Linked DNA regions of Homo sapiens. The main gene of each other region encodes a partner of the protein of the gene in region 2 in a complex. Each region holds a gene or a part of one and is shown on either strand. Other genes may lie near its edges.

What was found.
Region 1: GTF2A1 (region 2) and GTF2H5 share a complex: the UniProt entries of both Homo sapiens proteins name them as parts of the TBP-based Pol II pre-initiation complex.

The regions. Positions count from the first base shown.
Region 1 is NC_000006.12:158,166,842-158,183,665, reverse strand, and holds the start of GTF2H5 (general transcription factor IIH subunit 5), read right to left. Parts: upstream 15,317-16,824; 5' UTR 15,271-15,316; intron 13,197-15,270; 5' UTR 13,163-13,196; coding exon 13,128-13,162; intron 1-13,127. UniProt on the Homo sapiens protein: Component of the general transcription and DNA repair factor IIH (TFIIH) core complex, which is involved in general and transcription-coupled nucleotide excision repair (NER) of damaged DNA and, when complexed to CAK, in RNA transcription by RNA polymerase II.
Region 2 is NC_000014.9:81,180,457-81,197,280, forward strand, and holds part of GTF2A1 (transcription initiation factor IIA subunit 1), read right to left. Parts: intron 15,786-16,824; coding exon 15,652-15,785; intron 12,384-15,651; coding exon 12,063-12,383; intron 5,165-12,062; coding exon 5,075-5,164; intron 1-5,074. UniProt on the Homo sapiens protein: TFIIA is a component of the transcription machinery of RNA polymerase II and plays an important role in transcriptional activation. TFIIA in a complex with TBP mediates transcriptional activity.

The DNA.
Region 1 (16,824 bases), on a different chromosome or scaffold from region 2:
CGCAGCGTCTGAGATTGACTTGGGACACCGGAGCTTGGTGGGGGGAGGGGTGACCGCCATTGCTGAGGCTTGAGTAGGCGGTTCCATGCTCACAGTGTAAACAAAGCAGCAGGGAAGCTCAAATTGGGCAGAGTCCACTGCAGCTCAGCAAGGCCTACTGCCTCTCTAGATTCCACCTCTGAAGGCAGGACATATCTGAACAAAAGGCAGCACACAGCTTCTCCAGACTTAAACGTCCCTGCCTGACAGCTCTGAAGAGAGCAGTGGTTCTCCCAGCATGGCATTTGAGCTCCGATAATGGATAGACTGCCTCTTCAAATGGGTCCCTGACCCCCATGTAGCCTGACTGGGAGACACCTCCCAGTAGGGGCTGACAGACACCTCATACAGGCAGGTGCCCCTCTACGATGAAGCTTCCAGAGGAAGGATCAGGCAGCAATATTTACTGTTCTGCAGCCTCCACTGGTGATACCCAGGCAAACAGGGTCTGGAGTGGACCTCCAGCAAACTCCAACAGACCTGCAGCTGAGGGTCCTGTCTGTTAGAAGGAAAACTAACAAACAGAAAGGAGTAGCATCAACATCACCAAAAAGGACATCCACACCAAAACCCCATCCATAGGTCACCAACATCAAAGACCAAAGATAGATAAAACCACAGAGATGGGGAGAAACCAGAGCAGAAAGGCTGAAAATTCCAAAAACCAGAACACCTCTTCTCTTCCAAAGGAACACAACTCCTCACCAGCAAGGGAAGAAAACTGGATGGAGAATGAGTTTGACGAGATGACAGAAGTTGGCTTCAGAAGGTCGGTAATAACAAACTTCTGTGAGTTAAAGGAGGATGTTCTACCCATCGCAAGGAAGCTAAAAACCTTGAAAAAAGTTTAGACGAATGGTTAACTAGAATAACCAGTGTAGAGAAGAGCTTAAATGACCTGATGGTGCTGAAAACCACAGTACGAGAACTTCGTGAAGCACATACAAGCTTCAATAGCCGATTTGATCAAGCAGAAGAAAGGATATCATTGATTGAAGATCAAATTCATGAAATACAACAAGAAGACAAGATGAGAGGAAAAAGAATGAAAAGAAATGAACAAAGCCTCCAAGAAATATGCGACTATGTGAAAAGACCAAATCTACGTTTGATTGGTGTATCTGAAAGTGACGAGGAGAATGGAGCCAAGTTGGAAAACACTCTTCAGGATATTATCCAGGAGAATTTCCCCAACCTAGCAAGGCAGGCCAACATTGAAATTCGGGAAATACAGAGAACACCACAAAGATACTCCTCAAGAAGAGCAACCCCAAGACACATAATTGTCAGATTCACCAAGGTTGAAATGAAGGAAAAAATGTTAAGGGCAGTCAGAGAGAAAGGTCAGGTTACTCACAAAGGGAAGCCCATCAGACTAACAGCGGATCGCTCCGCATAAACCCTACAAGCCAGAAGAGAGTGGGGGCCAATATTCAATATTCTTAAAGAAAAGAATTTTCAACCCAGAATTTCATATCCAGCCAAACTAAGCTTCATAAGTGAAGGAGAAATAAAATCCTCTACAGACAAGCAAATGCTGAGAGATTTTGTCACCATCAGGCCTGTCTTACAAGAGCTCCTGAAGGAAACACTAAACATGGAAAGGAACAACCGGTACCAGCCACTGCAAAAACATGCCAAATTGTAAAGACCATCGATGCTAGGAAGAAACTGCCTCAATTAATGGGCGAAATAACCAGCTAGCCTCATAATGACAGGATCAAATTCACACATAACAATATTAACCTTAAATGTAAATGGGCTAAATGCCCCAATTGAAAGACACAGACTGCCAAATGGGATAGAGTCAAGACCCGTTGGTGTGCTGTATTCAGGAGACCCATCTAATGTGCAAAGACACACATAGGCCCAAAATAAAGGGATGGAGGAAGATCTACCAAGCGAAAGCAAAGCAAAAAAAAAAAGCAGAGGTTGCAATCCTGGTCTCTGATTAAAAACAGACTTTAAACCAACAAAGATCAAAAGAGACAAAGAAGGCCATTACATAATGGTAAAGGGATCAATTCAACAAGAAGAGCTAACTAACCTAAACGTATATGCACCCAATACAGGGGGACCCAGATTCGTAAAGCAAGTTCTTAGAGACCTACAAAGAGAGTTAGACTCCCACACAATAATAACAGGAGACTTTAACACCCCACCATCAATATTAGACAGATCAATGAGACAGAAAATTAACAAGGATATCCAGGACTTGAACTCAGCTCTGGACCAAGTGGACCTAACAGACATCTACAGAACTCCCCGACCCAAATCAACAGAATATACATTCTTCTCAGCATCCCATCACACTTATTCTAAAATTGACCATATAATTGGAAGTAAAACATTCCTCAGCAAATGTAAAAGAACAGAAATCACAACAAACTGTCTCTCAGACCACAGTGCAATCAAATTAGAACTCAGGATTAAGAATTCACTCAAAACCACACAACTACATGGAAACTGAACAATCTGCTCCTGAATGACTACTGGGTAAATAACAAAATTAACGCAGAAATAAAGATGTTCTTTGAAACCAGTGAGAACAAAGATACAACGTACCAGAATCTCTGGTACATATTTAAAGCAGTGTGTAGAGGGAAATTCATAGCACTAAATGCCCACAAGAGAAAGCAGGAGAGATCTAAAATCGACACCCTAATATCAAATTAAAAGAACTAGAGAAGCAAGAGCAAACAAATTCAAAACCTAGCAGAAGACAAGAAATAACTAAGATCAGAGCAGAACTGAAGGAGATAGAGACAAAAAAACCCTTCAAAAAAAAAAAAAATCAATGAATCCCGGAGCTGGTTTATTTTAAAGATCAACAAAATAGATAGACCGCTAGCAAGACTAATAAAGAAGAAAGAGAGAAAAATCAAACAGACACAATAAAAAATGATAAAGGGGATATCAACCCGATCCCACAGAAATATAAACTACCATCAGAATACTATAAACACCTCTATGCAAATAAACTAGAAAATGTAGAAGAAATGGACAAATTCCTGGACCATACACCCTCCCAAGTCTCAACCAGGAAGAAGGTGAATCTCTGAATAGACCAACAGCAGATTCTGAAATTGAGGCAATAATTAATAGCCTACCAACCAAAAAAAGTCCAGGACCAGATGGATTCACAGCCAAATTCTACCAGAGGTACAAAGTGGAGCTGGTACCATTCCTTCCGAAACTATTCCGATCAACAGAAAAAGAGGGAATCCTCCCTAACTCATTTTGAGGCCGGCATTGTCCTGATACCAAACCCTGGCAGAAACACAACAAAAAAAGAGAATTTTAGGCCAATATCCCTGATGAACATCTATGCAAAAATCTTCAATAAAATACGGGCAAACCGAATCCAGCAGCACATCAAAAAGCTTATCCACCACGATCAAGTCAGCTTCATCCCTGGGATGCAAGGCTGGTTCAACATACGCAAATCAATAAATGTAATCCATCACATAAACAGAACCAATGACAAAAACCACGATTATCTCAAAAGATGCGGAAAAGGCCTTCGACAAAATTCAACAGCAGAAAAGGCCTTCGACAAAATTCAACAGCCTTTCATGCTAAAAACTCTCCATAAACTACGTATCGATGGAATGTATCTCTTATTATCTCATAATAAGAGCTATTTATGACAAACCCACAGCCAATATCATACTGTATGGGCAAAAACTGGAAGCATTCCCTTTGAAAACCGGCACAAGACAAGGATGCCCTCTCTCACCACTCCTATTCCACATAGTATTGGAAGTTCTGGACAGGGCAATCAGGCAAGAGAAAGCAATAAAGGGTATTCAGATAGGAAGAGAGGAAGTCAAATCATCTCTGTTTGCAGATGACATGATTGTATATTTAGAAAACCCCACCATTTCAACCCAAAATCTTAAGCTGATAAGCAACTTCAGCAAAGTTTCAGGATACAAAATCAATGTGCAAAAATCACAAGCATTCCTATACACCAATAACAGACAAACAGAGAGCCAAATCATGAGTGAACTCCCATTCACAATTGCTACTAACAGAATAAAATACCTAGGAATACAACTTAACATGGGATGTGAAAGACCTCTTCAAGAACTACAAACCACTGCTCAAGGAAATAAGAGAGGACACAAAGGGAAAAACATTCCATGCTCGTGGATAGGAAGAATCAATATCGTGAAAATGGCCTTACTGCCCAAAGTAATTTATAGATTCAATGCTATCCCCATCAAGCTACCACCGACTTTCTTCACAGAATTGGAAAAAACTACTTTAAACTTCATATGGAACCAAAAAAGAGCCCACATAGCCAAGACAATCCTGTGCAAGAAGAACAAAACTAGAGGCATCACGCTACCTGACTTCAAACTATACTACAAGGCTACAGTAACCAAAACAGCATGATACTGGTACTAAAACAGATATATAGACCAATGGAACAAAACGGAGGCCTCAGAAATAACACCACACATCTACCACCATCTGATCTTTGACAAACCTGACACACACAAGCAATGGGGAAAAGATTCCCTATTTAATAAATGGTGTCGGGAAAACTGGCTAGCCATATGCAGCAAACTGAAACCGGACCCTTTCCTTACACCTTATACAAAAATCAACTCAAGATGGATCAAAGACTTAAACATAACACCTAGGACCATAAAAATCCTAGAAGAAAACCTGGGCTTCATTCAGGACACAGGCATGGGCAAAGACTTCATGTCTAAAACAAGAAAAGCAATGGCAACAAAAGCCAATAATGACAAGTGGGATCTAATTACACTAAAGAGCTTCTGCACAGCAAAAGAAACTATCATCAGAGTGAACAGGCAACCTACAGAATGGGAGATTTTTGCAATCTACCTGTCTGACAAAGGGCTAATATCCAGAATCTACAAAGAACTTAAACAAATTTACAAGAAAAAAGCAAACAACCCCATCAGAAAATGGGCAAAGGATATGAACAGACACTTCTCAAAAGACGACATCTATGCAGCCAACAGATATATAAAAAAATGCTCATCATCACTGGTCATTAGAGTAATGCAAATCAAAACCACAATGAGATACCATCTCACACCAGTTAGAATTGCGATCATTAAAAAGTCAGGAAACAACAGATGCTGGAGAGGTTGTGGAAAAATAGGAATGCTTTTTTTTTTTTTTTTTTTTTGAGATGGAGTCTCGCTCTGTCTCCCAGGCTGGAGTGCAGTGGCACAATCTTGGCTCACTGCAAGCTCCACCTCCTGGGTTCATGCCATTCTCCTGCCTCAGCCTCCTGAGTAGCCACCATGCCTGGCTAATTTTAATAGAGACGGGGTTTCACCGTGTTAGACAGGATGGTCTCGATCTCCTGACCTCGTGATCCGCCTGTCTTGGCCTCCCAAAGTGCTGGGATTACAGGGATTACAGGTGTGAGCCACCGCGCCCAGCCAGGAATGCTTTTACAATGTTGGTGGGAGTTCAACCATTGTGGAAGACAGCGTGGCGATTCCTTAAGGATCTAGAACTAGAAATACCATTTGACCCAGCAATCCCATTACTGGGCATATTCCCAGAGGATTATAAATCATTCTATGATAAAGACACATGCACATGTATGTTTATTGTGGCACTATTCACAATAGCTAAGACTTGGAACCAACCCAAATGTCCATCAATGATAGACTGGATTAAGAAAATGTGGCACATATACACCACGGAATACTATGCAGTCATAAAAAAGGATGAGTTCATGTCCTTTGTAGGGACATGGATGAAGCTGGAAACCATCATTTTCAGCAAACTATCACAAGATCAGAAAACCAAACACTGCATGTTCTCGCTCATAAGTGGGAGGTGAACAATGAGAACACATGGACACAGGGAGGCGATCATCACACACCAGGGCCTGTGGGGTGTTGGGGTCTAGGGGAGGGATAACATTAGGAGAAATACCTAGTGTAGGTGACGGGTAGATGGGTGCAGCAAACTACCATGGCACATGTATACCTATGTAACAAAACTGTACGTTCTGCACATTTAACCCAGAACTTAAAGTATGATAACCACTGCAACCACAGATGCTGACCACATACTGTACCCTTCATGTGCTTTACCCAGCGCAGCCTGCATACCTTATCCCTGATGTCAATTCCCATGCTTTGCCTAATCAAAAAGTCCCCATCAGCTTTTTTGGGGGTCAGCCGCAGAGTTCTTACTACTGTACTGTCTCCCTTGCATTTGTGGATAAACCCTGAAATAAAAGCCTCATCTGGGAAAACTGTATAGCTCTGTGTTAATTTTTATTACATAGGGAGCCAAAGAGCCTGTGATCTGTAACAGCAATGTTAGTACCATAGCTACACTGCAAAGTTGATGGACTACAGAATATTTCTAAAACATCTTGCTCATAGTAGGTACTCAAATGAGCAATTAAAATGCCAAGACCATGTGAGAGGATATAGGCAGAGAGGTTTAAATTACAATTAGTTCTATCCCTATCAAATGATTTACTGTTGGGAACAGGCACCCCAAAATCTGGCCATAAACTGGCCCCAAAACTAGCCATAAACAAAATCTCTGAAGCACTGTGACATGTTCATGATGGCCATGACACCCACGCTGGAAGGCTGTGGGTTTACTGGAATGAGGGCAAGGAACACCTGGCCCACCCAGGGCGGAAAACCGCTTAAAGGCTTTCTTAAACCACAAACAATAGCGTGAGTGATCTGTGCCTTAAGGACATGCTCCTGCTGCAGATAACTAGCCCAACCCATCCCTTTATTTTGGCCCATCCCTTTGTTTCCCATAAGGAATACTTTTAGGTAATCTATAATCTATAATCTATAGAAACAATGCTCATCCCTGGCTTGCTGTTAACAAATAAGTGGGTAAATCTCTGTTCGGGGCTCTCGGCTCTGAAGGCTGTGAGACCCCTGATTTCTCACCCCACACCTCTATATTTCTGTGTGTCTGTCTTTAATTCCTCTAGCGCTGCTGGGTTAGGGTCTCCCAGACCGAGCTGGTCTCGGCAATTTACTATTTCAATTACAAAACCATTAACCTATGAATATATATGGTATAATTCTAAGACATACGTATATCCTTTTAAAAAGCAAACATAGGCTGGGCGCAATGGCTCACATCTGTAATCCCAGCATTTTGGGAGGCCGAGGTGGGTGGATCACGAGGTCAGGAGTTCAAGACCAGCCTGGCCAAGATAGTGAAACCCCATCTCTACTAAAACTTCAAAAATTAGCCAGGCATGGTGGCAGGCACCTGTAATCCCAACTACTTGGGAGGCTGAAGCAGGAGAATCGTTTGAACCCAGGTGGCAGAGGCTGCAGTGAGCCAAGATTGTGCCACTGCACTCCAGGCTGGGTGACAGTGAGACTCCGTTTCAAAAAAAAAACAAAAGCAAACACAATATTATACTTAGTTTTATAATGGAGAGATAGTATATGTAACGTTTAGTAGCCTGGGCTCTGGAGCCAGAATACCGGGATTTAAAATCCCAGTTTAACAATAGCTATGTAACTGAGCAATTGATTAATTGATACAAAGTATCTCACTTTGTACATCCATAAATGGAGATGACAGCACTTACCTCAAAGGGCTGTTGTGAAAACTAAATTAATATTAGCAAGTGCTTAGTATAGCACATGTCACATGGAAAACAGCGTTAGTACAGGAATCCAGGTGTTTTCACTTAACATCATTGTACAGTGTCATTTCCCTGAATCACTTAAAATGTCTGCAAATATTTTAACAGCTATATTATTTGATTAAAATATGCCACAATCAACAAATTTCTTTTTCTAGCACATTAAATACATACATTTTTATTGGCAGTTCTGATCATTTCCTAAAATTTTTTTTTTTTTTGAAATGGGGTCTCACTGTGTTGCTCAGGCTGGAGTGCAGTGGCATGATCTTGGCTCACTGCAACCTCTGCCTCTTGGGTTCAAGTGATTCTCCTGCCTCAGCCTCCCCAGTAGCTGGGATTACAGGCGTCCACCACCATGCCCAGCTAATTTTTGTATTTTTAGTAGAGACAGGGTTTTACCATGTTGGCCAGGCTGGTCTCAAACTCCTGACCTCAAGCCATCCACCCGCCTCAGCCTCCTGAAGTGTTGGGATTACAGGCGTGAGCCACTGCACCCAGCGATTTCCTAAAGATAAACTTATAGAAACGGAGTTATTGTGTTAAAGGATATAAAAGCACAAAACACCCATCACAAGTTGCTTACAGTTGTTTCTTGGGATTACACTTCCATCAGCAGCTTGGTGGGGTGCTTGCTTTTTAAAAGCTATGACTGGAAGACAACAGCCTCCTCATTTAAAAGCTATTTTGATATACAACATGCTAAAAGGAGGCCTAGTATACACATCTGTTTCAAACTAAAACTTTAATTTATCAAGAATCCCATCTTATTCACTGTGAATCTCACTGTAGGAATAGAGAGGCTCTAAAGGAACATTAATAAATTTGGGATTTTGGCTGAGATCACAAACCTGGACTCAATTCTGTTAACAAAATTTATTCAGTACACAAATATTTACTAAGCCATATCTATATATGTGTATGTGTGTGTGTGTGTATACACACACACACACACACACACACACACACACACATCTCAGGCACAGTTTTGGGTGCCTGGAAAACTTCAGCGAACATGGCCCTACTAAGAGGCAAAGGCTGAGAAAAGATTTATACATGCTGAGAAAAAAACAGAACAATGGTTAGACTGGTTTTGCCATACTTCTTACTTCGCTTCTCATAAACGATATAGCTTTAGAAGCCAAACTCATAAGGATAAGTGTAGTTTAATAATACATATTTCTCCAGATTCTTTGCTATTGTGATGTAAACTGGTTGGAATTTGCACCTTGGCAACAAATCTTTGCTGAAGCACTTGCCAAACCAATTGTGGCAACTGTTATACCAGAGGTCTGCTCCAGCATCTGGAACTGGACACAGACATACTGTGGTCATGTGTTGCTTGCTTTGGTAATTGCTTGGTGGCTAGATTTGGGAGAATACTTAGTGTGAGCCTGGCAATTGATGGTGGATCCCAACAAAGAGGAAATTTTCACCAACCTTTCAGTTTTGACATAAAAGTGCAAATTTATAAACATAAAACTTCTTTTATAGCCTTCAATTTTAGTATTTGATAAGCCCTTGGGAGTTAAGATTATATCCAAGTGCCCTGATTTTTCAATTCTCTGAAGGTGAGAATAAATGGCCATCATCATAATTTGGTTTACTTCTTTAGCAAATCTCTGCAGACTCAAAATCAGTTAAACTTAACTGATAGAAATGGAGTTTAAATATGGCAGTTAAGTGAAGCCAATCTAAGATATATGTGGATCAGCACTATATAAGCTATTACACATCAGTTTCTATTAATACAATGATGGGACTGGAATTTGGAGAGATTCCTGGGACAGTGGAAGCAGCTGTGAGATAGGAATTCAGCAGGACTAGTTTCCAAGACAAGAGAGACAGTAAACAACAGGTCAGAAGACCCCACCGATAAGCGAGGATACAGTAAAGAAACCAGCCAGAACCAAGATGGCAACAAAAGCAACCTTCACCACTATCATACACAAATCATAATGCATGCGCACGCTAAAAACCACCCCCACCAGCACCACGACAGTTTACAAATGCCATGGCAATATCTAGAAGTTACCCCGTATGGTCTGGACTGGGGACTCCTGGTTCCACAGAATCCCTGCCTCTTTTCCAGAAAACTCACGAATAATCCACCCCTTGTTTAACATATACTCAAGAAATGGCCATAAAATAGCCAGTTAGCAGGCCCGCCTGCTTCCCACCCTCCCCACTCCACTCTGCCTATGGGGTAGCCACCCTTTTATTCCCTCATTTTTAATAAACTTGCTTTCACTTTACTCTGTGGCTCATTCTTGAATTCTTTCCTGCATGAAGCCAAAAACCAACTTGGCTTCCAGGGCTGAGCCTCAATTTTGGTATTCACCTGCAACAGCTGTAGAAGATCCTTGAGTGGTCTGCCTGTAAACTCCAGACCTATCAAATTCCATACTCCAATACACCTAAATGCTTCATACAATCCATGGATATTATGAAGTAATAAACAGACTTATACTGATAATCATATTATTAACAGGCTTCTCCTTGGCATCAAATATGGACATGAGGGAAACTGAAGGACTTTTCCAGTTACCATCCTAACATCTGCATCTAACTGTGAAAGGGAATCCACTAGCACTGGCCATACCCTTTCCTTTGGGAATCTATGTTATTTCTTAGGCCCAAAATCTTTTTGGAAGACTTGTGTTTTTGGGAAGACAGAGTTACCCTTTTGAAAAATTGTGCAGACTACACTTTAGAATTCACTTCAAAGGGAAAAATTAGTTTTGCAAGGATGGTACCTAACCTGCAAAATAAAATTTAATAGTCCTGGTGCAAAACACTTCTCCACAGGGAAACATTATTAAACTGAAGCTGATTAACAGTATTATTGCTTCTCAAAATTTAAATGCATCTTAACAAGATTCTTTGTATGCACAATTCTGATTTAGTAGATTTAGGGTGAGGTCTGAGATTTTGCATTTCTAACAAGCTCCAGATGATGCTATTACTGCTAGTCTGGGGATTACCCTGAAGTGCAAGGTGATGGACAGTCATTAGAGAGACCAGGTAGAATTCAGAGGTTAGATACGGGACAGCAAACCGGGCACTGAGACTTCAGAGTCTCCCCAGAGTTTTGTTCTTTAAGATGCAATCCAGTCATCTTTTTTTTCAAATTAAAACGTAGGTTTAATGCAATTCCAACCAATATGCCAAAAGGATTATTTTGGAAACAGACTAAGTTATTTCAAGGTTATTCTAGAATAGGCAACAAGAAAGATGAATGTGGGAAGGGATGAAAGAGAATAGCAAGGGGAGTAAAATTATGTGATTAAGGAGGCATCAAGCATCATTAAGAAAGGAAATAATGGTGGAGAACTAGATATTTGGCAAAATGAACAGACAAAAACACCCAAAACAAAAAAGAAGCTAGGCTGGGTGCAGTGGCTCATGCCTGTAATCCCAGCACTTTGGGAGGCCGGGGCAGGTGGATCATGAGGTCAAGAGATCGAGACCAGCCTGGCCAACATGGTGAAACCCCATTTCTACTAAAAATACAAAAATAAAATTAGCCGGGTGTGGTGGTGTGTGCCTGTAATCCCAGCTACTCGGGCAGCTGAGGCAGCAGTATCGCTTGAATCCAGGAGCCAAGATCGCGCCACTGCACTCCAACCTGGCAACAGAGCAAGACTCCGTGTCAAAAAAAAAAAAAAGAAGCTAATTTAGATCCTTATCTAATAATATGTCTCTTCTCTGAATAAATTCTAGATGAATGAATCTAACACACCAAGAAAAACACAAAATCCCCACAAGAGAGAAGTGAATATTTAACAAACCTATGCCACTCCTCCCAATAAATTCTAGATGAATGAATCTAAAACACCAAGAAAAACACAAAACCCTCAGAAGAGAGAAGTGAATATTTAACAAACCCAGGGGTGAAGATTAAACTTAGAATTGGAAGAAACGAGGGAAAAAAAGTGATAGCTGACACTCTGTGTATGTGTATCCTCTGTATTTAAAAATAACACTAAAGGCCAACGAGGAAAATGTTTATGTTATGTCAAATTAATAGGAAAATAAGTACATCAAACCTAGTGCCTTCAAAAGACAACAGAACAGTGTGTTTAGAACTTCTGGGGTCCAGATCCCACCCCCTTTGCTTTTCCAAGTGAATACCTCTCCCCCGCAGTGGTTTACTCTCATCAACGTACATTCTAGTCTTTCACATTAAAATAAAAATAGCAAGAACCTGAGCCCCTCACCATGTCCTTCGTCAGCTACCAATCCAGTTCTCTATGAGATTGCTCATGATCACAGTAAAACTTCTCCGAAGTCTCCATCTCCACCTCCTCACCTCCCTTTCCTTTTCCACAGTACTTCAATCTGGCATCTCCCCACCACTCCATTCAAATGGCTCTCATCAAAACTCCAGTCTTCATCTCATGCCAGTTCTCAATCAGTGCCCAACACAGCCGCTCATCCCTACAAAACACTTCCTCCTTTGGCTTTCCTCCCTCCAGCCTCACTGGCTATTTTCTTCTTAGTTGCCTTTGTTGGTGTCTCCTGTATCAAAACTCCAAATCTGCACTATGCATAAGGTAGCCCACTAGTCAGGTCACTACAGAGTCCTTGAAACACGGTTAGTCTGTGAGATGTGCTGTAAAATTAAAATATCCATTCGACTTTGAAGATGAAGATTTTTTTGAAGACTTAGTATGTGTTCAAAGCATAGTGTTTTGCATAGACAGGGTTAAACAAAAGATATTAACTTCACCTGTTTCATTTTACGTTACTTTTAAGATGGCTAGAAAAAATGTAAGACTATATCTGTGGCTTGCATTAGATTTCTATTGGCTAGTGCTGTTCTAAATGTTGGCAGTGTCCTAGGGTTTGGTCTTGCTCCTCCTTAGCCTTGCCATCACAGTAAACAGTATCATTATCCATGCACTGGCTCATATTAGAGGCACCGAAAGTAGACAGTAGTATTTTCAGACAATGGGAGTGTCCACAGAGCAGGGTTCCCGGGGTTCCTGGACACTGGATTGCTTTGAGGAACTCAACTCTGCCCATTTATGGTTTTTAGTTTCTCCTCTGGAATGTACCTAAAGGAATTTAAGAAACCTCCATTTGGCTCTGTTGTTTTTCTCTTTTTTAAAGTCCACAGTTTGTAATGGTAAAGACTTAAGCAAGTTCCTGAACTCTTTCAGGCCCTAAAATTCATCATGTTTGAGGAGAATGCAAGCACTGTTTCTCTAAAGACGACTCATCTAACAAATATGCTGCCTCTGATCATGCCAGTTCCATCAATTCAACAGAGGGACTGAAATCTGGCACCAGGAGCTTTGCAACAAAATCTGTGCCACTTGTTAAAAGCGAAAGACTTGATTTCATCCATATCTTAAAAACAACAGGGTTTTAGAAAAGACATACATACAAGTCAAGATTCAATATTTAAACTTAAAACTCATGCAGTATCAAAACTACTAACCATTCTATAAGCACTCCTTTCAAGACGTTGACCATGTTTTCTCAGAAGGTTCAGATGACCTGAAGAATGCTAATAAAAAGAGTAAGGTAACATTAAATTAAAAATCATTAACTTTCATATACTTTGGGGATCTGCCTCTGAAACGAGGCAAAATAATTAAATGTCAATATTTAACAGTTAAGTCTATGAAAGACAGTTAACATTAAGAAAAAAGACATTCTGATTTTTTAACAAAATTAAAATGAGTCTACTTGGAATATTAATGCCACATCTTACTCGCCAGCCAATTCTACCCAAGGTCAATTAGCCCTAATAGAAGCAAGAGGCCTAACTCTACACCAGTGTGCCCAACCCAGGTATAAACCGTCCATTATTCAAAGGATTTCTTTTCCCATTCAGGAGAATGACAAAGGGTAAGATCCTGGGAGACAGGAATCAAAGAAGATAGTTCTGAAAGGTGCTTCAAAAATTATACAGTGAGCCCAACCACCTCCTTTTAGTTTATATTTTATTTTACTGAGACAGGGTCTGGCTCTGCCGCCCAGGCTGTAGTGCAGTGGCGCGATCTCTGCTCCCTGCAACCTCTTGCCTCCTGGGTTCAAGCGATCCTCCCACCTCAGCCTCCCGAGTAGCTGGGACTACAGGCATGCACTACTAAGCCCAGCTAATGTACTGTGTTGTATCGTGTGTGTGTGTGTGTATATATATACACACTTTTATATATAATATATAATATACAATATATAATATATAATATACAATATATTATATATAATATACAATATATTATATAATATATAATATACAATATATTATATAATATATAATATACAATATATTATATAATATATATTATATATTATATAATATACAATATATTATATGTAATATACAATATATGTAATATACAATATATTATATGTAATATACAATATATGTAATATACAATATATTATATATAATATACAATATATTATATATAATATACAGTATATTATATATAATATACTGTATATTATATATAATATACAATATATTATATAATATACAATATATTATATATAATATACAATATAATATATATAATATATAATATATATAATATACAATATATTATATATAATATATAATATACAATATAATATTATATATAATATATAATATACATATTATATATATGTATTATATATAATATACGTATTATATATAATATACATAATATACATATTATATATTATATATAAAATAAATATATATTATATATAAAATACATATATAATATATATATATGTATATATACACTTCGAGACAGAGTCTCACTCTGTCGCCCAGGCTGGAGCGCAGTGTCGTGATGTCGGCTCACTGCAACCTCTGCCTCCCGGGCTCAAGCGATTCTCCTGCCTCAGCCTCCCAAGCAGCGGGGACTACAGGCGCCCGCCACCACGCCAGGCCAAATTTTGTATTTTTAGTAGAGGCAGGGTTTCACCATGTTGGCCAGGCTGGTCTCGAACTCCTGATCTCAAATGATCCACCTACCTCGGCCTCCCAAAGTGCTGGGACAACAGGTGTGAGCCACCGCGCCAGGCCAATTTATTGTATTTTTAGTGGAGACGGGGTTTCACCATGTTGGCCAGGCTGGTCTCGAACTCCTGGCCTCAAGTGATTTGCCCGCCTCGGCCTCCCAATGTGCTGGGATTGCAGGCGTGAGCCACCGCGCCCGGCCTCAGCCACCTCATTTTACATATGAGGAGACCAAAGGAAGAGATTAAGCCGTAGTTCCTGGCCAAAGGAAAAAAGTACAAGCCAGATCTCCAGATCTTGTGCCCCTTCACTAAATAAATCACGTCCCGTGCGGACCTAGGCTGGAAACAAACCACTCAGCGTACGCCCATTTAATTAACTTCCACTTACACCTGGGCGCAGGGCGAGCCCTAGCCCCACAGGAAACCCACGATTAAACGAGGGGGGGACTGCCGTGCGGCCCCGCCAGGAAGGGCCCGGAGAGAGTGGGGGACACCGCCCTGTGCCCCCAGCACCCGGTGGACAGGCTTCTGGGGCTTTTCTCTTCCTCTCCCCTTTCTTTGGGACCCCTCAGTGTTCCCACACCCCACTTTCCCCAGCCGCTCGGACGCTCGCCACACACCTCGGCCCACAGATGCAGAAGCGCCTCGGCGTTGCCGGCAGAGTGCGCCTGCGCCGATACGCCATCGCGCTAGGGACGCTATTGTGGGTGGAGCCAGCCGGCGGGAGGCGGGCCCAGAGCGGGCCGAGGGGGCGGGGTCACGAGCCGCCAGCCGCCGGGTGGAGGGTCCCGGCCGGGAGCCGCGGAAAGAGTAGGGCTCCCCAGACAACGGGGTCCGACGAGCAGTTGGGCACGGGCTGAGTCCGCCTGCCGGCAGGTAGGACGTGAAGGCAGGGGTGGTGTGGGGGCGGACGGGGGCGTCGGCGCAGCTGGGCGCGGTGGGGAGCGGAGAATGGGGAGGGCAGGGACCGGGCACGGCCGAGCACCGCCGTCTGGCGCGCGGACCGGACCGACCAGCTGACGCTCGGCTGGGCGTGAGGGCCTCTCTCTCTGGTGGTCGCGAGCCTGACTCGTCTTTCCCTGTCGCTGCCTTTCTCTGGCTGCTGTCGAGGCCTTGGGGAGTGCACCTGCCGGTCCGTCTTCCCGGGCTCGGTAGTCACGGAGAGATGAGGAGGAGGAGGAAAGGGCCTCACCAGTCACTTCTGAGCCTTGCAGACCACCGCTTCCTGCTCCCTCTCTAACCCCAGAGATGGAATAGATTGAATGCTGAGAGAGCTCTAAACTCGGCAACGGTCATTTTAAAGTGAAAGACCCCAGAAGGTTCTAAAGTTACTCCCTTTCCCCAAGTCTGTTCTGTAAGTCTAAAGGAACACTGTCATTATTTTTACTAGTTGAGATATGAGATTCTTGTTTTCTGTTCCTTAGGTTAAATTGTACTTCCCGCATTAAGCTCATGCTGCCTTTTTTTTTTTTTTTTTTGAGATGGAGTCTCGGTCTGTCTGCCAGGCTGGAGTGCAGTGGCGCGATCTGGGCTCACTGCAACCTCCGTCTCCTGGGTTCAAGCAATTATCCTGCCTCATTCTCCCTAGTAACTGGGATTACAGGCGTGCGCTACCACGCCCGGCTGATTTTCGTATTTTTAGTAGACACGGGGTTTGTCCATGTTGGCCAGGCTGGTCTGGAATTCCTGACATCAGGTGATCCCCCGCCTCGGCCTCCCAGAGTGCTGCGATTACAGGTGTGAGCCACCGCGCCCGACCTCATGCTGCCTTTTTTTTTTTTTTTTTTTTTTTAACATCGTGTGTGTTCATGTGATCGCTAAGGAACCCAGCTCTTCCATTTAGTTCCCTCTTTCTATCCCTCAAATCTTTTCCAACTGGTGATTTCCATATTGTTGCACTCTCTTTAAAATAAAAAAATTGCCTCCAAGTCTTCTTCTTCCCAAGTATCTTTTATTTGCTTTTTTTCATCTTGCATACATTCTCTTCCTTGATCTCATCAGTTCCATTTTTGTGCACTTGATGTGTGTCAGCTATTATTCTAGACGCTTGGGATACAATGGTGAACAGGTAACTAATTTTGGTGGGGGCAGAGAGACTCTGAAATCAGTTAAGGAATAAGTACCATTTGGTGATGTGATAAAGAGTGACTAGAGGGGTTATTTTGGCCAGGGGG
Region 2 (16,824 bases):
GTATTTGCAAATTGGTTTGTTTTTGTAGAAGAAGGGTCTCCTATGTTGTGCAGGCTGGGCTCGAGCTCCTGGCCTCACGTGATCCTTCTATCTCAGCCTCCCAAAGTGTTGGGATTACAAGCGTGAGTCACAGCACCTGGCCTAAAAATTGGTTTCTTAATAAAGTTTAATTTCACCAAAAAGAACAACAACAACAAAAAAACCACACACAAAACTCACTAGGTGGGTCTAAAAACAAATTTATCTGTAATTAGTACTATTTTATAGCTTTTAGTACTTGTGTTCATTAAAGTAGTTAAAAAATATTTCTTTACAAAATGTCTTATCTCTCTACCAGGTTTGCATATATATTTTCAAGGTCTACCTCAAAAAGACTATCCTCCACAAAGCTTTCCCAAATCTTACCAGCTAAAACTATTCTTTTCCACTGTTAAATTCCCAATGGTATTTTCATTGACATTTCTTACATTATTTGTAAGTAATACAATTATGGACTCATTTCTTCTACCAAAATAAAACTCCTTATAGAGTTCTCAAGACCTAACTACCATGGAACCTTATACATAGCAGTATTTTAAAAATACATCTAAAGGATGCTAATCATCCAGTCACTTACACCAGATTTCAAAAACTATGTACATCCACAGTTAAACAAAAAGAGCTGAAGGGCAGGCTCTGGGCACTCCCATCTTTGCCTTCACTTATAGTCCGTAGTTGTTTGTAATTCCATGGATTTGGTGGGGGAGAGGAGTTGTAAAACTTAATGAACTGAAGTGACCTTTCTTCCTTTTCCCAGTAAGTCACACTAATTATTTAATGTTCAAGTTCCACATCTTCTGCAAAGAAGGCCCCCTGGTTCTCCCTATTCTATGATCTAAAGGTACCTAAAAAAAAAAAAAAATCAACTAGTTCAGGCTTTCATTTTCAGAAGAAGAAATGACAGATTGGATAGGGTTCAATGGTTTGACCAAGTGTATACTGCTACTAAGTGACAATCATGATTTTCAAGTCTTGGTCCAGTACGCTTTTACTAAATCAGTCTGTTTCATATAATAATGCAGAAATGCTCAACAGGTATAGATATTTTCTTTTTCTTTTTTTTCTTTGAGACAGAGTCTCACTCTGTTATCCAGGCTGGAGTGCAATGGCACGATCTTGGCTCACTGCAACCTCCCCCTCCCAGGTTCAAGTGATTCTCCTGCCTCAGCCTCCTGAGTAGCTGGGATTACAGGCACTCACCATCACGCCCAGCTAATTTTTGTATTTTTGTAGAGATGGGTTTCACCAGGCTGGCCAGGCTGGTCTTGAACTCTTGACCTCAGGTGATCCCCCACCTCGGCCTCCCAAAGTGCTGGGATTACAGGCGTGAGCCACTGCACCCGGCCAGGTACAGATATTTTCTGAGATCTCATTCCTAAAATTCCATGGCCTAACCTCCCAGTGCAAACATTCTTCATGACATATTCCTGGCAAATGGTTGTGCAGTGTCTGCTTAAATACGATTAGAAACAGTGAGCAAAGAATTTCAAATTAAGTTATTCCTTTTTGGAACAGCTCTCTTGTAAAATCTTTCAGAGTTTACCCTTACGGAAATCTGCTTCTCCAACTTCCATTTATTGATCCTAGCTCTGCTTTTTGAGACTTAAAAAAAAAAAATCACTCAATCAAACAACCTTCATCTTATTTGGAAACTACTCTCATGTTCTTCTTCTGGATTCAAACTTTGCTTACTTATTAAAGCAAAACAAAGCACAATAAAGGTAAAACAGCAGGTAGGGTAAAGACTGTTGGATTAAGAACTAATTATATCTCTGGTCTAAATACACTACATAAATGCTAAATGTAGCATCTTAAGATTGATGACTTGAATGTCTAACGGACATACCAGACTTGGCATGTCCAACCAGCTCCACATGCAGCTTTTCCTCATCTGAACTGATGGTATCACCATCCTTCTTTCAGAATCCTCATCAAAAAATCTCAAGAGTCATTCTTGATTCCTTTTTCTTTTCTACCACAAATCTCAGAGTCAGGAAATGCTGTTAACATTCTTCCTTCAAAACAAATCCAAAATCCAACTACTTCTCACCAACTTTAATACCATCACCATAGGCCGAGTCATCATTATCTCCCATGTGAATTATTATAATATCCCCCTAAATAGTCTCGTTTCAGCAACCTCTGCTTCCTCCTCATATTATGCTCTCTACAAAGAAAGCAAAGTAATCCTTTCAAAATTTAAATCAGTTCATACCATTTGTCTCACTGAAACCTTCCAATAACTTTCTGATTCACTTAAGAGTAAGAGCCATGTCCTTACAAAATCCTTACTATCTGCCTTCCCTTACCTCTCTACCTACTACTGTACTCTCCTCTTCCCTCACTCCAGTCTAGCCACACAGGCCTCCTTGCTGTTCCTCACATACAACAGACTCTGCCACCAGATGACAGGGCTAACTCTTTCCAAGTCTTTGCTAAAATGTCATTTTCTCCAAAGACCTACTATGACTATCCTATTTAAAACTGAAACCAAACCTGTCCTCTTTCCCTGCTCTTTATTTTTCCATACCGACTATCAGCTTCTAACATATAAATATTTTATTATGTTTTAAATAAGTAAATAAATCCTAATTTATTATGTTTTAGCATCTATCTCCCCTGATTGGAGTAAGCTTCCCAATGGCAGGGACTGTTCTGTTTTGATCATTAGTGTATCTCAAGCTCCAAGAATAGTGCCAAGGGACATCATAAACAGTATCTGTTGCACATGAAAAGAGCTGTCTCCCCTTATCTTTGAATTCCTATAAAGTATTATTTATTCTACAAACGTGTATACAAATGTATTTCCAGCATGAACCAAGTGACTGCAACCAGAAAGACCGTGGGCTTAGCTAGACAAAAACAAGAAAGTGATGAGTAGCCAGGAAATAAGAGATTCTATAGACAAGTAAAGAAACTGCCTGCATTCTGTCATAGGACAGGACAATTTGCAAAAAATAAATGTACCAAAGTTTCATGGGCCAACTAATCCACACAGTCAACACTGAAGTCATGTTGGGTAATAAATGGTAAATATTTTTATATTAATAGAAGTACAAAGTCACAACTTAAAAAGCAATCTATTTACCGGCCCTAAGCCCTTCATGAAGGAATATTCTTAAAGCCAGGAGAAAGCCCTCTTAAATTTCCTAATTAAAAATGTGTTAAAGCAAGTTTACCTACATCTGATGCTATTTTCGCTAAATGCTGTATCAGCCCTTATCCACCCACACGTAAGCAAGAACTCTACCATATTATTAGCATTTAACTAAGATTCTGATTTGATTGGCAATACAAGCTTTATTAGTCGTTCTATGATCTCTTCTAAAATTGACTCATTGTTGACATTCTAAAGTTAAGGCTTCAAAACTACATTCCTGAAATTCAAGTTGGCTCAAACAATATCCAACCTCATTTTGCGCAGTCAAAGAAAACTGCTGTTCTTTACTATTGGCTAAAGACATCAAGCCACCACCCTCCTCCAATCTTCAGAGCAATTCATTTGATTCTCAAAATTAGACCTCTGCAAATTTTAAAATTATTTATCATTCAGCACACCATTTAGAGCTATCTCCCACTTACTAATTTAAAACAGTAAAGTAATGTCTCTGGGAGCAAAACAAACCAATTTTAACATTTAAAATATTATGAGTACAGTTTGTGCCAAAGGAGAATACAACCATTGTCTTAAAGTAGGAAGACACTTAAAAGTATATTCTTCAGTCAGGCTAAAACAAAGGTCCTCGCTTGCCTGATAAATCTGACATCTCATCATGAAATTGTGTTCTGGATAATTTGGTTGCAAGGAGATCCTCTGAGACTTCCTAACAATAAAGATTTAATGGTATCTTTTGTTTTAACCTCATAGTCTTGCTCTATGTGTATCTAACAGGAAATTACATTTATTATACTGCACATGGTATATGGTTTTAAGAACAGTCTCTCAGAAGTCATTATGCACAAAAATGAATGCTGTGAAACTCTCAATGACCTTACTGTCTTCATTCTATAACTTCACTGGTAAAACTAGCCTAACTCCACCTTTTTATTAGTAAATAAGATCCATAGTGTTGGCATTCTCCCTATAGATCTGTTTGAAGTAAGCACGGCTACTTATCACATTCATTTCCATAAAAGCAACAGAATTAAGATTTTCTTCATCTATAAAGGAAACTTCATGCAAGGCATGAATTTTACATGTTCATAACTACATCGCCAGGGCCTAGAATAGTGTCTGGTAAATTTCCGCACTCTATAAATGTTGAATAAATAAGCTTTTGTTAGAATTTTTAGCATTTGGTAAAGATCTCTACTAAAATTATAAATGCAACGTAATATTTGCATGCATTATAAATTTAATGATTGCAATAAAAAAACTGTATTACAATTTAAATGTCTTGAAAACAAAAATCTCAGAAATAATACAAATAAATGTAACAAAAATACTTGGAAAGAAGCACCCTGTCTAGGAATTAAGAAAATAAGGAATCAATGGCTAGTTTTCACAGTATCTGGTTTAAAAATTCCTTAATGTTAGCAAACTACAGCAAAGTTAAATAATATTTTAAATAATTTTCAGTAAAAACTTATGTTTGTTTTTAGCACTGTTCATTGCCTTAGTCTTTTCCTTAATAATAAAAACAGTTACAGAGATTCAATTGAACCCTTCTAGTTTTGAGATAGTTGAGGCTAAATAGAAAACAGAATTATCTCATTGAGTTAGCTATTACCACAAAGGACAACCTCAAAGTGGCTGTTTACTCTGCTTACAAGTTCAAAGACTGTCTAAATAGAAAAAGAAGATCGTAGCTCTTTTCATTTCATTCATAACTTATTTTTCAAACATAAAGCTAAGAAATTAATCTTTCATTCTATTAAAATAATCCACAAAACTCTAACAGGGTTTTCGTACTATTCATAATGAATTTAAGAGGCATGAATCAGCTGCCCAAATGTTTCAATAAGGCAGAAAGAATAATGTAGGGAAGAAATTACAACACAAATAACGTCAGTAATCTGAAGATGACATCCTTACCTTATCATATTGGCATACAACAACATTTTCTGTGTCAAAGAGTTCCTGTCCTTCCTCATCACTCACATCATCTTCACTATTGAGGGGCTCCTACAAATAAAAGGAGAGTTCTTATTACTATAAGAAGGCCTTAATATTCACTGAAAAAAAAAATATAATGACCTTGATGTTCTTTGAGAACCAAATGCCAAATGCATATATGTACGCCATGAATTTAATATTGTCAAATCAGCTGTTAACAGTTTGCCAATATTACTGAAATGTAAGAAATTAAATATAATTAAATTAGCTAAGCTATGTAATTTTTAAGTCTGAAAAGATGTTTATCTTTATTTTCTTCTTTCTTTTTTTGAGACACAGTCTCGCTCTGTAGCCAGGCTGGTGCAATCTCGGCTCACTGCAACCTCTGCCTCCCGGCTTCGAGCAATTCTCCTGCCTCAGCCTCCCCAGTAGCTGGCACTACTGGCACGCGCCACCACACCCAGCTAATTTTTGTGTTTTTAGTACAGACGGTGTTTCACAATGTTGGCCAAGATGGTCTTGATCTCTTGACCTCGTGATCCACCCCGCCTAGGCCTCCCAAAGTGCTGGGATTACAGGCGTGAGCCACCACACCCGGCCTATCTTTATTTTCTTTATTTTTTAAAAACAGTACAAGAAGATAATTCTCTACAATAACTGTTTAAGATGCCTAGAAAAGGACCTAATATGAAGGTTCAAAAGAGCTAATGGCACTATGTACTACAAATCATATAAAACAGAAAACAGTGGAGAAATTAGAGGAGAAAAGAAGAGCAATGCAATAGGCTAGCAGTCTGCCTTGCTGTCTTTACATTAAAGAACTTGGACTCTAAATACAAATCAGCATGTTTAGCATGATGATGGTTATGGTAGAGGTATGAAGCAGAATTAAGATTCAGACTTTTTTTTTTTCTTAAAGGCAGAAAGTAGGAAATCTCAGCATTAAAGAGAGTTAGGGGCCAAGATAAAACCTAACTAGAGCATAAAATAAACAACCATGTTAAATTTCGCTTCAATTGTGACAGAAGATAGAAGATGTAACTGAGATTTCTAATAAATGCAGAAAGAGAAGACAAAACCAAAGTAGAGAAGACAATAATCAAGACTATATTATGGACAGGCACAGTGGCTCATGCCTGTTAATTCTAGCACTTTGGGTGGCCTAGGCGGGACAATCACTTCAGGCCAGGAGTTTGAGACCAGCCAGGGAAATACAGTGAGATGCCACCTCTACAAAAAATAAAAAAAATTAGCGAGGTATGGTGGCATATGCCTATAGTCCCACCTACTCAGGAGGATGAGGGTGGGAGGATTACTTGAACCCAGGTGGTTGAAGCTATGAGCCTTGATCACACCATTGCACTCCAGCCTGGACAACAACCTGAGACTCTATATCAACAATAAGAACAAAAAAAAAAAATTATTATGTCTAGGCCTATACCTACTTACACAGGTGTGTATGTATAGATATTCTTTAATTTAAAATAGGTATCATCAATGTAAAATGAAAAAAATTTTCTACACCAGGCGTGGTGGCTCACACCTGTAATTCCAGCACTTTGGGAGGCTGAGGCAGGCAGATCACGAGGTCAGGAGATCGAGACCATCCTGGCTAACACGGTGAAACCCCGTCTCTACTAAAAATACAAAAAAATTAGCCGGGCATGGTGGCAGGTGCCTGTAGTCCCAGCTACTCGGGAGGCTGAGGCAGGAGAATGGCGGGAACCCAGAAGGCGGAGCCTGCAGTAAGCCAAGATTGCACCACTGCACTCCAGCCTGGGCAGCAGAGTGAAACTCCGTCTCAAAAAAAAAAAAAAAAATCTCTGAGGTAAAATTCAAGTTAACAACATTCACTATTTTAGCATTTGTACATGTACAATTCAGGTGCAATGAACATTTACAGTGTATATAACACTCACCACTACCTAGTTCCAGAACATTTCATCACTCTTACCTATTAAGCTGTCACTCCCCATTCTCCCTGTCCCCTGGCAATCTATAATCTGCTGTCTGTATGGATTTGCCTATTCTGGATATTTCATATAAATGGAATCATATAATATGTGGCGTTGTGTGGCTGATGTCTTTCACATAGCATGTTTTCAAGGTTCATCCATGTTGTAGCATATACGAATACTTCATTCTTCTTATGGCTAAATAATATTCCACTGTTATCAGCTGATGAACATTTGGGTTTATACCACTTGGATATCATAAATAGGGCTGCTATGAACAGTCACATACAAGTTTTTGTTGAAAAACATGTTTTCAGTTCTCTTGTGTATATATTTAAGAGTGGAACTGCTGGGTCATATGGATAATTCTATACTGAATTTTTGAGGACTATCAAACTGTTTCCCACAGCAGCTGTACCATTTTACATTTCCACCAACAATGCACAAGGGCTCCAATTTCTCCAAATCCTCACCAGCATTTATTTTCTCTTTCTTTTTTGAGTATAGCTATTCTAGAAGGTGTAAAGTGGTTATCTCAGTGTGGTTTTCATTTGCATTTCTCTAATGACTAATGATGCTGAGCATCTTTTCATATGCTTGTTAGCTATTTGTGTATCTTCTTTGGAGAAATGTCTATTCAAGTTCTTTGCCAGTTTTTAAATTGCATTATCTTTTTGTTGTTACGCTGTTTAAGAGTTCTTTATATATTCTGGATAGTAGATCCTTATCAAATACATGATTTGCAAATATTTTCTCCCAGCTACTCAGGAGGCTGAGGCAGAAAGATCACTCCAGCCCGGGAGGTCAAGATGCTGAGGCTGCAGTGAGCCACGATCATGCCACTGCACTCCAGTCTGGGCAACAGAGTGAGATTCTGTCTCAAACAAAAACAAAAACAAAAACCACCTTTTTAATCTACAAAGTCCACTTTTTCTTTGATTGCTTGTACTCTGGGTGTCATGTCTAAGAAAACTGTTGCAAGCGGCTGGGCACAATGGCTCACGCCTGTAATCCCAGTACTTTGCGAGGCCGAGGTGGGCAGATCACGAGGTCAGGAGATCGAGACTATCCTGGCTAACACAGTGAAACCCCGTCTCTACTAAAAAAAAAAATACAAAAAATTAGCCGGGCATGGTGGCGGGCACCTGTAGTCCCAGCTACTTGGGAGGCTGAGGCAGGAGAATGGTGTGAACCCGGGAGGCTGAGCTTGCAGTGAGCCGACATCGCGCCACTGCACTCCAGCCTGGGCGATAGCGTGAGACTCTGTCTCGAAAAAAAAAAAAAGAAACTGTTGCCAAAGCTATGGAGATTTACCCCTATGTTTTCTTCTAAGAGTTTTATAATTTCAGCTCTTAGATGTAGGTCCCTAATCCACTTTAATTTTTGTATGTGGTATGCCGTAGGGGTCCAACTTAACTCTTTTGCATGCGGATATCTAATTGTCCAAGCATAATTTGTTGAAGACTATTCTGTCCCTACTGAATAGTCTTGGTTGATGTTAAAGTTTTGCAACAAATAGCATAAATAGCAATATTCTATTTTAAAAAGATTAAGTTTACAGATCCAAAATGTTTGAAAAGTGAAAGAATGAAAAAAGCTGTACCAGGCAAATTCTAACCACAACAAAGCTGGTACAGCTCTAACAGTATCATACAAACAGACTTCATGGTTAAAAAAAATTTACTAGCAATAACTTAAGACATTGTATGATCATAAATGGTTCAACTCACTGAGAAAAAACAATGAATGTTAAACTTACATGCACCTGTTTTGAGGCTCAAAATACAAAAAGGAAAAATGGCAGAAAAACAAGAAGAAATATATCAACTACCATAGCAGGAAACATGAACATATCTCACTCAGTAGTAAAAAATGGATCAAGTGGCCAGGCGCGGTGGCTCATGCCTATAATCCCAGCACTTTGGGAGGCCAAGGTGGGCGGATCACGAGGTCAGGAGATCAAGACCATCCTGGCTAACACAGCGAAACCCCATCTCTACTAAAAATACAAAAAATTAGCCGGGCGAGGTGGCGGGCACCTCTAGTCCCAGCTACTCAGGAGGCTGAGGCAGGAGAATGGCGTAAACCCGGGGGATGGAGCATGCAGTGAGCAGAGATAGTGCCACTGCACTCCAGCTTGGGTGACAGAGCGAGACTCCATCTCAAAAAAAAAATGGATCAAGCACACAAAAAATATCAAGGATACATAAAGAGCATCTGAGCAAACCTACTGACAATATAAATCTAACAGACACATACAAATACCAAACAAGTGCAGAAAACACATTCTTTTCAAAGCATATACAAAAACTGACCAAATCAAGCAAGTCTCAAGCAATTTCAAAAGATTCACACATCACACAGATCATATTCTCTACAAACAAAACAGTTAAGTCAGAAAAGAATAGAATGGGAAAAACACACTAGAGAGAATAAAGCTAAAAGTTTACTCTTTGAAAACATTAATAAAATCAACACATCCCTGGTAAGACTGAACAGGGAAAAAAAAAGATGGCACAATAATTATATTAGGAATGAAGATGACAAAGGATTCTGGCATCAAAAAGACAATATCATGATTAACTTCATGTTAATCAACTTGAAAATTTAGATAAATATATAGAGAGTCCTAGAAAAATATAACTTATCAAAACGGTCTCAAACAGAAACAAAATACTTGAAGGGCATGAGATTACTAGACCCAGGTATCTGTAGTGTCATGTTTTAACAAATATCAACAGAAGAATTAAATACAATCTTTGAAAAAAAAAAAAGAGTTCAAAATACAGGAAACATGTCCCCAAATTCATTTAACAAAGCTACCATAACTGAAAACCTTGTAAGAAGAGTATGAGAACAGAAAATCACACAGTATCTATCAATCATAAATATCTACAAAAAAGTCCTCAACAAAATGAATTCAGCAATTTATAAAAAGAGAAATATAAAATGATCAAGTTGTGCTATCCCAGGAGTACAAGATTGGTTTACAAATAGAAAATCAATTAATGAAATCCATTATAAATAACATTACGTGAGAAATTATACAAATCATTGCAGAAAAGGTGTTTAATTAAATGCAACATTCACTTACAGTTTAAAAAACAAAGCAATGCAAAGAAGGGAATTTACTTAACCTGATGAAGATATCCATTAAAAAAAAAGAAAACCCACAACAAACATTAAACTTAACAGTGAAGCATGGAAAAGATTACTTTTCAGTTTAAGAAGAAGAGAAGAGTGCCTGCTATCACCACTTCTAATCAATACTGTTCCCGAAGGCTTAGCCAATGAGCCACAAAAAACTGCCGTTCTTCATATAAGATGTGAAAGTCTACACAGAAGATACAAAAGAATCTACAGATACATTATGAGGACTAACAAAAGACATTAGGACGGTGGCTGGTTCAAGGATGAATATTAAAAGCGCTACATATTTCCATCCTACCAATAAACTGGAAAAGGTAATAAAAACATGTTACTTCAAGAAGCACTGAAACTATGAAGAATTTAGGGGGAGGAAACGGGCAAGAGACCTCAATAAGCACTTCTATACAAAACACAAATATCAAATAAATATACAAAAAGAGGCTAAAACTCCTAAGTGAGGAAATGCAAACTAAAACCAAAATGAAATAATACTATTTTCTACCTACCAGACCAGCAAAAATCAGGAAGCCTGACACTATCAGGTATTGATAAGGGGGTATGGACATCTGCACAATTATGTATTGAATGGCAGAAGTGATTTGGCATTTTATTATAAAGTTGCAGATGTGCATGACTTAGGAGCCAGAAGTTCAATGTTCGGTATAAAATTTAGAGAACCTCTTGCATTTGTGTCCCCAGAAGACATACACTACAATATTTTATAACTGTTTGTAACAGTAAACAACAAGAAACAATCCTTATGTCCACTGGATTAGAAAAATTGACAAATAAAATTATGGTATATTCAGCAATGAAAATAATTATAGCTATATGCAACAACTTGGATAAACCTCAGGAATATCATTTTAAGGGGAAAAAACCAACTTGCAGAAGAATACGTAATTACTTCATTTACGTTGTAAACATGCAAAACTAAACAATATGCTATTTAGGAATATAAATATATATGGTAAAATATAAAAGCAATTAATAATCAACACAAATGTATGAGCAAAGGTACTTTGATGGCCTAGGAATGATGGGATTAGGGAGAGGCATCTAAGGCACTTTAAATAATGGAATTTTATTTTAACTAGATGGTGGGCACCAGGATGATTTTTATCTTGAAACATTTCTATTCATTTGTGTCTATTCAATATTCAATAATAAACTATGTTTTCTTCAGAAAAAAAATTACTTAGATAATTTAGAAGAACTTTGTACTAAGAAACAAAAAGACTGCATTTTAGGCTAACGAAGGCAATTAACAGTGAAAATTGTGGTGGGACAAATAGTTTTTGGAGCCTAGTAACTAAGCTGAAATAGTGAGGAAAACAAAGGCATATTTATATGCTTCTAGAAGAACACAGACATTAAGGGTACATAGGTTTTTAAGGAAGTGGTATAGAACATGGACCAAAAGGTTTTAAATATTTAATAAATTTGTGACATTTGGTTCTTGAGTTTGCTCTCTCCCCAAATGTTGCCACGCTTTTTAAATTACTGAAGCAAAAGATTAACCACATCTATTTATCTACCAATGTCTTATGTTTAAGCCACATTATAAATGCGTAAGCCAGAGTTAGAATTACCTGTACTCTTTACTACACATATTAATACAATTTAATTTGTTATACATTTTTTATTACCAGCTATATGAAAGTTATATTTTATGAAGATAAATATAGCCAGAATATAAAAACCTTACTAAAGTTAAAACAATCTAACTTTATCTTTAAAATCTTATGTTGTACAGCACCTAACAGTCTCTGAAAAAAACAGGATATAATTTATCAGTGTTGTACCAACTAAAAAAGGAAATAATCAAGTAGATTATTTTAAGTATGTTACTAGAAACTTACTTCTTCCACCTGCCCATCTTCAGCTCCATCTTTCTCTTTGTCTTCCTCCTCATCATCATCATAGTCTTCTTCTTCATCTTCATCTTCTTCAGATGATGTATCCCCAGTTCCATCAACTTGTAAGACCAATGGAGCTTGTGTTTGAGCAGGCTGGGCCTGCGGTTGCTGCTGGCCAGTTGCAGTTATCTGTGCTTGGGCTGGTGTAGGTGCTGCCACTGTCGTAGGTATAACTTGAGTCTTATTTCCTGTAAATAAGATTTGCTGAGGCTGGATGATGACACCTGTCTGTGGTGAAATCCCTCCAGGAAGAGGAGCCAGCACCTAAAGCAAAAGAAAACCACATAACAGTAACTAGTTAAGAGGATCAAGTATGGTACACAGAAATAGAAACAAATGCTTAAGATTCACCAGAATGGCCATATTTCATACACAGTTAAAAACTACCAAAGTACAAAAGCAATTAGTTTAACTAGTGTAGTGACCCATTAAATTTCTATTTTATCAAATTTCTAGAAAATAAGGATTTTCTAAAGATAACTGCTTCATTTATTGAGCACATACTATGTATATGCCAGCTACCAGGACAAAAGTTATACACTGCCTTCACATGAAGAACACTGGACTGAGAATCTGAAAACCTGGGTCTACCTTTTTTTTTTTTTTTTATAGATGGAGTCTCGTTCTGTCACCCAGGCTGGAGTGCAATGGTGTGATCTCGGCTCACTGCAACCCCTGCCTCCTGGGTTCAAGCAATTCTCCCACCTCAGCCTCCTGAGTAGCTGGGACTACAGGTGCGCGCCACCATGCCCGGCTAATTTTGTTATTTTTAGCAGAGACGGGGTTTTGCCATGTTGGTCAGGCTGGTCTCGAACTCACGACCTCATGATCCGCCCGCCTCCCAAAGTGCTGGGATTACAGGCGTGAGCCACAACGCCTGGCCAACCTGGGTCTACTTTTGTCTAAAGTCAGACATAAATACAGCAGACGCAAGTCATTTAACTCCTCTTGGCCTCTGTCGTTTCACTGTCAAACTAGGCTTAATGGTTCTCAATCCTGGCTGCAAATATGAACCACCTGGCAACTTAAAAAGTACTGATACCTTGGCCATACCCCTAATATTCTGACTCAGTGTGAGATAAAAGCTAATTATTTTTCTAAAAACCACCAGATCAGATTTCTGAAGTTCCTTTCCAGGTTCTGCATCTAGGATTCTAAAGTAAGCCACAACTTGAAAAAATATATACTAACAAATATTAACTATATGTATTATAATAAAGGAGGAGGACTAGATGCTTGTTACTTGCCATTAGGTTCAAGGAATGCAAAAATAAGACACAGTATTTCCTTTAAAATGCTTACACGTGGTGTAACAACACAAAAGACAAAAAAATGGTATAATAGACAAAGCACTAACAACTCAAAAACACAGCAGATGTAGTACAAATATGACACAGTGTTATGGGAACACAAGAGAGTGTACCAAATTCAACTTAGGGGACAAAGCATGATCAAATATTACTTATATTATTAGTAAGTAGTTTCTGTTTGTGCTTAAAGGCAGCGGTCCCCAACCCCTGTTAGAAACTGGGCTGCACAGCAGGAGGTGAGTGGTGGATGAGCCAGCATCACCACCTGAACTCTGCTTCCTGTCAGATCAGCAGCAGCATGAGATTCTCATAGGAGCAGGAACCCTACTGTGAACTGCACATGCAAGGATGGAGGTTGTGCACTCCTTATGCCTGATGACCTGAATTAAAAGTTTCACCCCGAAACCATCCCTGCTGCCCAGTACATGGAAAAATTGTCTTCTGCAAAAACCAGTCCCTGGTGTCAAAAAGCTAAGAGACTGCTGCTTTAAGGAGATTAGCCAGGTTTTTCTATTTGTTTGGGGGAAGTGCAGGGAGTTGCCAGACGGCATTCTTAAGAGAAGTGTAACATCAAGTGAAACCCAGAAGTGACAGCAGTACATAATTTTGGAAAGATGTAAATAAACTGGATTAATAGTACTGCTCTGATCTTGTCTCTATCATAATACTATTTTACTGACATTTAAAAAAGAGACAGACACATAAACATATAAAGTACATAAGTTCCTCAAGAAAATAACCATTCCTCTTTCATTTTAGTGCCACAGCACAAGAATATAACACAAGTAGATCCAAGTGTTTATTTTGATGTAAATGCAGCTAAAGAAAATAACTGGGAGCATGGCAAGAAATAAACCTGGAGAGTTCAAAGAAACAAGATCCACAAAAAGATTTTATAAACCATGTTGAGTTGTTTAGGCTCTTCTCAGTAGGCAATGAAAAGCTGTTAAAAGTTTTAGGATTTTTAGAAAGATAGGCCAGGCACAGTGGCTCACGCCCATAATCCCAGCACTTTGGGAGGCAAAAGCGGGCAGATCACCTGAAGTCAGGAGTTCAAGTCCAACCTAGACATGGTGAAACTCTGTCTCTATTAAAAATACAAAAATTAGCTGGGCACAGTGGTGCGTGCCACTAATCCCAGCTACTCAGGAGGCTGAGGCAGGAGAATCACTTGAACCCAGGAGGCGGGAGTTGCAGTGAGCTGAGATTGCGCCATTGCACTCCACCCTAGGTGACAGAGACTCTGTCTCAAAAAAAAAAAAAAAAAAAGATGACTATAAATCAGCCAGGTTAGGAGGGCAAAAGATGAGAGGCAGAGAAACCATTAAGAAGACAATGCAGCATTTTAGTGACAAATCATGGACAGTATGAACTAAGGAAATGAAAAAAGAGGCTGAGAAAAAAACAGTGTCAAACATATTAAGGGACTGCAACCATGGCAAAACTGCAGTTAAAGAAAAAAAAAAGGCCGGGCGCAGTGGCTCACACCTGTAATCCCAGCACTTTGGGAGGCCGAGGCGGGTGGATCACAAGGTAAGGAGATAGAAACCATCCTAGCTAACACGGTGAAACCCCATCTCTACTAAAAATACAAAAGTTAGCCAAGTGTGGTGGTGGGCGCCTGTAGTCCCAGCTACTTGGGAGGCTGAGGCAGGAGAATGGCATGAACCCAGCAAGCAGAGGTTGCAGTGAGCTGAGATCGCGCCACTGCACTCCAGCCTGGGTGAAAGAGCAAGACTCTGTCTCGAAAAAAAAAAAAAAAAGAAAAGAAAAACTATTAACAAGAATTGGTAGGGCTTGATACCTTGGGTATTAGAGGTAAGGAAAAGGGAGGATTCTACACACCCACTTCCAGTAAGCATCATAAAACTAGAGTCATGTCTGTGTCATTCACTCCTAAATCCCCTGACCCTTGTGAATACCCCGAGACTCAGTAACTGCTTATTGAATAAAGGCTGAATGACCAGCTTAGGAAGCTGGAAGGAGAGTGCTGCCACCTTCGAGGGGATGATGAAGGATGGGCAGAGACAACAGTAATTGTTTAATACATGTTTAATACATGCTGAATCTAAGTTAAGCTGTATACAGGAGAAATTTGAAACAACTGGGTCTGTAGCACTGAAAAAGAGTCTTTTGTGCATATAAGGAGAGGGAAACTACCCAGGGAATACATACAGAATAAAACAGAACCCCATACTGATCATAATAGAAGATTATTTTACCTGCTGTATAACAGGAGCTTGTACTCCACCAGGCTGCATTTGTGGTATAACCTGTTGTTGTAGAACCACTGACTGCTGAGGCTGAAAGATATATTGGGCACCATTGGCTGCTCTGACCACCTGAAGAAGCTGGCCTAAAGCAAAAAGCATGCATTCCGAGTTATCATTTTAGCAGTGACCATCTCAAAAGAAATGAATTCATATTTAATTTCATACCACCAAAGGCACAAGAAATTATCAAGAAAACTAACAATTTTATTAAAGGTTGTCATTCATACACAGTATGCATAATCCTCCCCTTCTCTGACTTCTCGCCATGTTCAAATACATTCCTTAAAATGTTTTATTTTTCATATTTACATCCTCATTCAGCTATTTCCAACAAGGTTTTAACAACAGATTATGAGACTTGACTAAAGCTTACATTATCTTTGCTAACCTTAGGAGTGAAGAAAGAGCAGTAAGATCAGACACTTCGGGAGCTGTTCATTTTTAAAGCTTTAAAGGAACAAAAGCTTAATAGCTCATTTAATATCTTGAACCAAACAAAGCACCAAAGAACTTTGCTTCAAAATTGGTAAAAGCAATAAAAGTTCACAGAACCAGTTATCATCATTGTCATACAATTCACACAGAATCAAATTCCCCCAATATGTTCCTTTAGACAACCCAGAATCTTGAATTGATTAAAAAGCAAATTACATCTTATTAAAATATGTAGCAAGACAAGCCCCTAATTTCACAAATTTACAAATTAACAAAAATAACATACACAGAATAGAAAATAAATAATAACTATATAATCAAGATTATAGGGAACACTTAAAATCCATGTAAATAAATTTTTCAAGCACCAATATGCCAAAACACATGAGCTAGACATTGGTCTTTTGTCAATGAAGAGATACTATGTATAATAATAGCATACAATAAATTTGCTCTTAATATGCTCTAGGAATTACTTTGATATCACAAGTTCAAAGAAGTTTAATACTCACTTGGCATGTTAAATGTGTTCAGTAAAAAACTAAGTAAGCATTTTTATATAATCATACTTCAATAATAGGGTTATCATGCACAGATCAAAGGTTCAAGTACAATTTTCATCTTCTTTACTGTATCCTCAACAACGATTACAGTTATATGTGTTACAGCCCTCAAATAAAGTTATTT